2 linked regions of the Homo sapiens genome follow. The protein of the gene in region 1 interacts with the protein of each later gene in a pairwise test. Each region holds a gene or a part of one and is shown on either strand. Other genes may lie near its edges.

The links.
Region 2: the proteins of RAP1GDS1 (region 1) and DIRAS2 interact in binary tests that used the Homo sapiens proteins (3 or more experiments, as listed by UniProt).

The regions. Positions count from the first base shown.
Region 1 is NC_000004.12:98,418,320-98,422,070, forward strand, and holds part of RAP1GDS1 (rap1 GTPase-GDP dissociation stimulator 1), read left to right. Parts: intron 1-337; coding exon 338-472; intron 473-1,699; coding exon 1,700-1,825; intron 1,826-2,935; coding exon 2,936-3,075; intron 3,076-3,751. UniProt on the Homo sapiens protein: Acts as a GEF (guanine nucleotide exchange factor) for the Rho family of small GTP-binding proteins (G proteins) that stimulates the dissociation of GDP to enable subsequent binding of GTP.
Region 2 is NC_000009.12:90,640,890-90,644,640, reverse strand, and holds the start of DIRAS2 (GTP-binding protein Di-Ras2), read left to right. Parts: upstream 1-1,816; 5' UTR 1,817-1,889; intron 1,890-3,751.

The DNA of each region.
Region 1 (3,751 bases):
TGTAACATTGGGAGAACACAAGCATACATCACAATAAATGAAAAATATTGGACATTCTAACCATGTGTTTCTACTTCTGATATATTATCTGGCTCTAAACTAAAGATTTTTCTGGTAATTTTCTGATTTTAAAACTTTTATCTAGTTTAAGAATTTTTTTTAACACTTCTCACTCAGTAAACAGAAAAACCTATAAATCTGATGGGAGAAAGATTTGGAATTCATTTTATTGTATAGCTCCATTTTCCCTAATGTAGATAATAGCCAGACATCAGTATTATAAAGTATTTATAGATATTTTAAAGAGGAAGAAAAAGATGTGTGTTTTTTTTTTCAGATGCAAATTGTATTCATATGGTAGACAATGGGATTGTAGAAAAACTTATGGATTTACTGGACAGACATGTAGAAGATGGAAATGTAACAGTACAGCATGCAGCACTAAGTGCCCTCAGAAACCTGGCCATTCCAGGTAAGACTTAAGAATAGAAGGCAGCTGTGTACAAAATAAAATCCATCATTTGGGGAAGCTATTAACTGTATGTGATTTGTGAACCTGCTCTGATGAAGAAAATTTAAAAAAAAATAGTCTTCACATTGTTCACATTTTTTCATGCTAATAAATGGAGATCATATGTTAAATAAGTTTTGTGAGACTGTACAAGAATAATCTTTGCCTTCATTCAGATATCCTGTTACCTTTTGCGAACTGTTAGATTTTCATCATGTTTTATAGTTAAGCTTTTTTAAGTTTGAGATGGGGTCTCACTCTGTCAGCCAGGCTAGAGTGCAGTGACGCAGTCCTGGCTCACCACAGCCTCTACCTTCTGAGCTCAAGTTATCCTCCCACCTCAGCCTCCTGAGGAACAGGGACTACAGGCATGTGCCACCATGCCCAGCTGATTTTTTTTTTTTGTAGAAACAGGATCTCACTATGTTGCCTAGGCTGGTCTTGAACTCCTGGGCTCAAGCAGTCCACCCACCTTTGCCTCCTAAAGTGCTGGGATTACAGGTGAGAGCTACTGCACCAGGCCTTAGGCATCTTTAGTTGAGGTAGAATAATGACATCAATTAACAGAGTCCACTCAAGAATGACTTTCAGTTGTTGTTTTTCTATAAGCAGATGTACAATTTTTTTAAAATAGCCTTAATGTGCCTTTGGAAGTCATGAAATCACTGTATTATGGAAAATACAACAAAAGATAGTTAAAACTATTCTTTTATCCTACTTTCTAAAAATAAATTTCTGATTAGATGAAATAGTACAATTACATGATGATCCAATCCATTTGAATTCATTTGGTTTACATAGGATAGTAACATTTATTAATGTCTATAACATTTATATTAACACAGTTGGATCAAAAACGGAATTGTGCTTTTTGTTGTAAGAGGGTAACATTTTCAGATTTCCTTTACAAACTATGTAAGTAAGTGTTTTGGATTGGATCTAAAAAGCCATGATACTGTCATAAAAATTATTATATTGTCTGTTATCCGCTTATACACAAATAGGATACGGACACACACATAAACAACTGAATTCCATTCTTAAAATTGACAAAAAAGTGACAAGATTGTTTCTAAATGGAAAAATAAAACATGGATCTTAAAGATACTTAATAAACCTGTATTGAATTGAATGTTTATCAACAGGAATGCTAATACCATTTTAACCATAGTCTCTCTTTTTCTCCAGTTATAAATAAAGCAAAGATGTTATCAGCTGGGGTCACAGAGGCAGTTTTGAAATTTCTTAAATCTGAAATGCCTCCTGTTCAGTTCAAACTTCTGGGAACATTAAGAATGTTAATAGATGCACAAGGTAAAAGAAATGTTTTCCCCAACTTGCATTTTTCATATGATAGTCTTAATGTGCCTCTAGTTGAAAAAGGACTTGTTTTTAGCTTTTAGGATTATGTAATCATAAAAAATAGCAAATAAAAGATTTAAAAGTTGGTTTTGGAACTCCATTTGTTAATTTTTATGCTTGTTATAATTATTTATTTATACATATTATTTATTTATTTATTTATTTATTTATTTGTTTATTTATTTATTTTTGAGACAGAGTCTTGTTCTGTCACCCAGGCTGGAGTGCAGTGGTGCGACCTCAGCTCACCGCAACTTCCGCCTCCTGGGTTCAAGCAATTTTCCTGCCTCAGCCTCCTGAGTAGCTAGGATTACAGGCATGCTCCACAACTCCTGGCTAATTGTTTTGGAATTTCACTAGACATGGGGCTTGTTGCTCAGGCTGCTCTTGAACTCCTGGCCTCAAGCGATCCACCCACTTCAGCCTCCCAAAGTGCTGGGATTACAGGTGTGAGCCACCATGTCCAGCCTATAATTGACTTTAAATAGAAATTATACCATATCTCTCCTTATTAGTACTTATAGTCCTGGTTTTAGGTTGCTTTATTCATCAGTTTCGGCAGGGGGTGTTGTGTTTTGGCATTCTATACCCATTTTTACCTTGGCTTTGAAATCAAATTTCATTATTGTGACAGTCAAAAATTTTTTAAATTTGTCTTCCAGACAGGGAGAGCATTTTTCTGTTTGCAGAAACAGCAGTCAGAACCACTCCTAGGAATGAATTATGTTTATTTACTTATTTCTAAATTTTAAACCCTTTTCTATATTGATTGCATAGAGTCTTTCTAAGAACCCTGCATTATAGTCCGCCAGAGCACTAACAGACTAGCAGGCTTAACCAAAAGAGTATGAAGTCATTTGTTGTTGTATTTTCTATAAAATTTCACAGTGTTACAGAAGAAGGCAAATAGCCCATCACATAAGGAATATTTGCAGTTCTAGCTTTAATGAAATTGTCGTGCTGTGTTTTTTTAGACGTCCTTCACACTCTCAAATCTGTACGAATTATTTCAACTGATTGTCTGTTAGTGATTCATTCCTTGGTTTGCCTTCTTTCCTATAGCAGAAGCTGCTGAACAATTGGGAAAGAATGTTAAGTTAGTGGAGCGTTTGGTGGAATGGTGTGAAGCCAAAGATCATGCTGGTGTGATGGGGGAGTCAAACAGACTGCTGTCTGCCCTTATACGACACAGTAAATCAAAAGTAAGTTCCAGAGGAAACTGTTCACTAGAAAACTTCAGAGTGTCTTTTTCAGAAACCCAGCATTGTAGGTCCTAACAACTGGGATAATATTTACCTGAAAGTATTGTGAAGATTCAGTGAGATCATGTATATAATGTGCTTAGCTGATACATGGGATATAGGAAACACTCGGTAAATGGGGGTTGCTGTTGTTGCTGCTGCTATTGTTGTTATTACTTTTACCACCACCGTTATCAGCATCAGTGTCAAACATTCTTTGTGCCAGGCATTGACCATGCAGCCTACTGATATTTAGAAATTAAATGGTACCTAGATAGTATATGATGTCCAGAGCTCACAGAGTTAGAAAAAAATCCATTCTTGTGGCTGGCTGTGCCGCTGTCTGGCACATGGTAGATAACCAATAAATGAACAAATGAGCTATTTTAAAGATCACAATAGTGAGTACCCAGGCCAGCAGTTCAGCAGCTGATTTAGTATCTAGATTATATGATTTTTAAATTTTTTAAATACTGTTTTCTTGTTGGGCGTGGTGGCTGACACCTGTAATCCCAGCACTTTGGGAGACTGAGGTGGGCAGATCATGAGGTCAGGAGATCAAGACCATCCTGGATAACATAGTGAAACCCCGGGTCTACTAAAAATACAAAAAAAAATTAGCTGGGCGTGGTGGCGG
Region 2 (3,751 bases), on another chromosome or scaffold:
CTTAGAAGGATGTAAGTTAAGGGGAAGTTAAAAGAGGAATTTGGGAGCAATCTGCTCCTTCTGGCTGATGAAAGTCTAGGGATTGTGGGGAGTGCCAAAGGGGCCAGAGACATCATATTAAGTGAGTTGCTCCTTGTTTAAATGAGGCCTTTGGGCCTCTGCTTCACATTCTCAGAACAAATAATGATGGCATGTGGCAAAAGGCAGGCTTCTTCTGCATTGTGGGATATTCAGCATAGAACTGGCTCTCTTTATCAGCTCCTGATTTGCTCTCCCTGCTTCCATACTAGCACTGGATTTTTGCTTATTTAATCTTTTTACCCTCCTTTGTTTAGTTCTTAAATTCCATTTTGTCATTTAACCTGATAACCTACATTTTGGTTGTCATGGAAAACAACATCCTGACTTATAAAACTGGAAGGTTGTTTCAGGACCCAGAAACTGCATCAGGCAGTGCTCAGAATCCACTGTCATCATATTTGGAGCCTCCTCTGGGATGGGTTTCTGAGTGGCCATATATTCCTTTGCAATGAAGAGGAGACTGTGGAGGACAGGGTGACCACTCTGCTTTTAGACATCATTAGTGTAGGGGCAGGTTTGTTGAAGTAGCCTTAAATGACTTTAGTAAAAAGAGTGTATTTTTATTTTTATATTCCAATGGCTGTAGGATCAAGGCCAGAATTAGGATGAACTGGGGAATAAAATAAGTTTTCTTGACTATAAGTTGTAAAATGCGTAGTTTTTAAGTATGATTTTTAAAAAGCATATTTCCTGTGAATAGCAGGGCAGAATTTTACTATGGAAATGAACTTCAAAGGTTAACATGTTTTAATTATTTAGAAAGTGAAGACGGGATTAAAACAGATAAATAGGATTCTACAACAAAAATCAAATGTAAAGAACTACAGAATATTAATTTTGCTCAAGTCTTTTAGCATATTTGGTATTACAAAAGAATGAGTAATATAACCAAGAGAAGAAATCTTCCTTCAGTCTGTAGTTTAAACTTAACATGGATCAATGTTATGCTCAAGCACTTTTAAAAATGCCTGCACAGAATTGTTAGCCATTAATATTTTTTCTTGCTGATTCACCTGTTTTTTAATCAACGCGTCTTTGACAAAATTGTTTATCAATGTCAGGAAATAAACGTGGTCATTTGCTTGAAATGCTAATGTGAAACCACTCAGTGAAAAAGCAATTCTAATCCAAGCTTGCCAATGGCGGTGTTGTCATAGGATCCTATTAAATTAGAATATATTAATCTACACTGTGTGGTTGGCTATGGTATGGGGCAGGGCATTTCGTCTGCCTTTAAATGAGTCGGTTTTTAAAAGTTAAAATCTGGAAATGGAAAAAAAAAGTCTATATGGTTAGTAGCGATTATAGTTCGCAATGCGAACAAAAGAATCTGGTTCCCTTTCAATGGAATTATTTTAATTCATTAAATTATCAGAAAATTCCAGTCCTCGCCATCTATTCCAAGAGCATGCAGTAGGTGGCACCTAAAAGCTCTTTGGAGGCGAACAGGCGCCATTTAAGCAGGAGCAGCAGCCTCTGCAGCAGTTGGCACATCTGAGAAGGCAGAGATTGAAGAGAGTAGGAGGAGCGTGCAGCGGCGGTGACAGTGCCAGGCCGGAGCGGCTCAGGCCAGCGCAGGTGCAGGGGCTGCGAGCGGGTGGAGCGCGAGGGCGCTGGGCGCAGGGAGCACGGCCGGTGGGCGGTGCAGGGCGCACGGCGGGCGAGCAGCTGACAGCATCGTCACGGCGGCGGGAGGGAGTGCGCTGCGCCTGCCTCCGGGAGGAGCCGCATCCACACACCCTGCGCTGCCCTGTCCTGCGCGAGTGGAGCTCTGAAGAAGCTCTGAGCGGAGTTGTGTTCTTCCCCAGGTAACCGATTTCCCCCTTCTGCCGTGGCTTCGCTGCGTCCGCATTGGGGCACGGGCGGCTTTGGCATGATTGTTTGCCAGCCCCTGGAAAGGGATTACCGCTCTCAGGGAGGGCGAGTCAGCGTGTACTGGAGTTGGTAAGAGGGGAAGAAATCTGCATTTCTGTATCCTTGTTAGGGAGGGTGAGCATCATGCTGTCCTTGTCTAAAACATGTTCTTTTTTAAAAATCTGTATCTTACGTATTATTAGGGATTCCTTCCAAAACAGGATTTACCGTTTTGGAAAATTCTACTGTGCAGGTGTTTCTGTTAATGTGGAAGTTTAATGGATTTAGGAAAAGAGTAAGAAGATGTGGTCTAAAGTGAGAAAAAAGCCAAGCACGCTAGGGACTGCCGTTTGGTTCGGCATGCTTTCATCCTCGACTCCTTCACTTCATGCGCTTGGCCGAGACCTGTCTAAATCTTTTGTTTGTCTTCTTAAAGAATGTGTTTCATGATATCTACATGTGCTCCTTTCCGCTTCCTTGTTGTAAGAGCAGAAGATGGGCAAGGGGCTGCATCCAGTCCTTAGTTGTAAGACTGTGGTTTCCCATCAGATGACAATGACTGCTGACAGCTCCCAGGCTCGCCTGAAAAGCAGTGCTGGCTTCTGGCGTTGTGGGAACCTGCCTCTCTCCTTCTCTCTTGAAAAATGCTGTTTTTCCTCTTTAAAACTCCAATTCACATTCTATGTGGGTTTGGGAGACTTTTAAACTAGAAGCTCTGTGAATCATCTGTTACATCCATTGAATGCTGGAATACAACATTGTGGTGGAATTCAGTTTCTTCCTACTGTGCAGAGACACAGCTTGCCTTCCCTAGGAATTTATTTTACATATTTGCCCTCGTTATCTTTTAAATGGATCCCTTCAGATGTGAGAAGCTAGTCCAGCATATCAGAACTTTTCTGCTTCAAACTAAAAATTTTCAAAAATATTATTTTTGAGGAAGATTTTCCAGGTAACGCTAAAAGTCTGGAGCATTTTACATTTCAAATCAGTCACAATGTGCTCCATTTCCAGTGACATTTGGATTTGAGGAGGTGGAGGGGGAGGGAGAGAAAAGGGGAGGATAAAATTAGAATAAATTTAACAAATTTGTAGGGGAATCATACTTTTTTTTCTTCTTGGTTGTTGTCTGAAATTGAAAATTGTCCACAATTTTATCTATCTCTGGAAATGCAGGAGGCTTTGTGGGCTGGGGACAGGAAGACACATAGTTCATTTTATAGAAATAAAAGATACAGTGGCAAGGAAACATTTTCATCCCATTTAACATATGGCATTTAATTTGGTAATAGTCCCGGGCAAGCACAGGGAAAGGAAGGAGAAAGGAGGGGGTATTGCTGTCTATACCAAGGCACAGAACTGCTGCTCACACTTCAGTGATCCCTGCAGATGGGAAGTATGTGTTCATGGTTATTGTAGAAACCTCCAGAATCTTTCTTTGTTACAGCTTTAATAGAATTGTTCCTAAGAGGCGACTCAGAAAACATACAGATTGAATGCCAAGTTGTGGAAGTCACTTTTCAGCTTGTGTCTAACAACCCAGCATTCTCAGCAAAGCAGTTTCCTCATGAGAAGAGTGGAGGAGACCTTTTTTTTAAAAAAATTATTTATTGTATGTTGTTCGTATCCTATACACCACACATGACTTTTACTGTATTGGAAATGTATTATTTCAGTGGTAAATACTGCATATCTTACTGAAAAATTAAAACCTTTTAAAAAACAACTGGGGTGCTTTTGTCAAAAAGAGAGTGTATCTGTGATAATAAAAAGTATTGTTCATTCTTCTTCTAATTTGGAGACCAGAGTTGATATG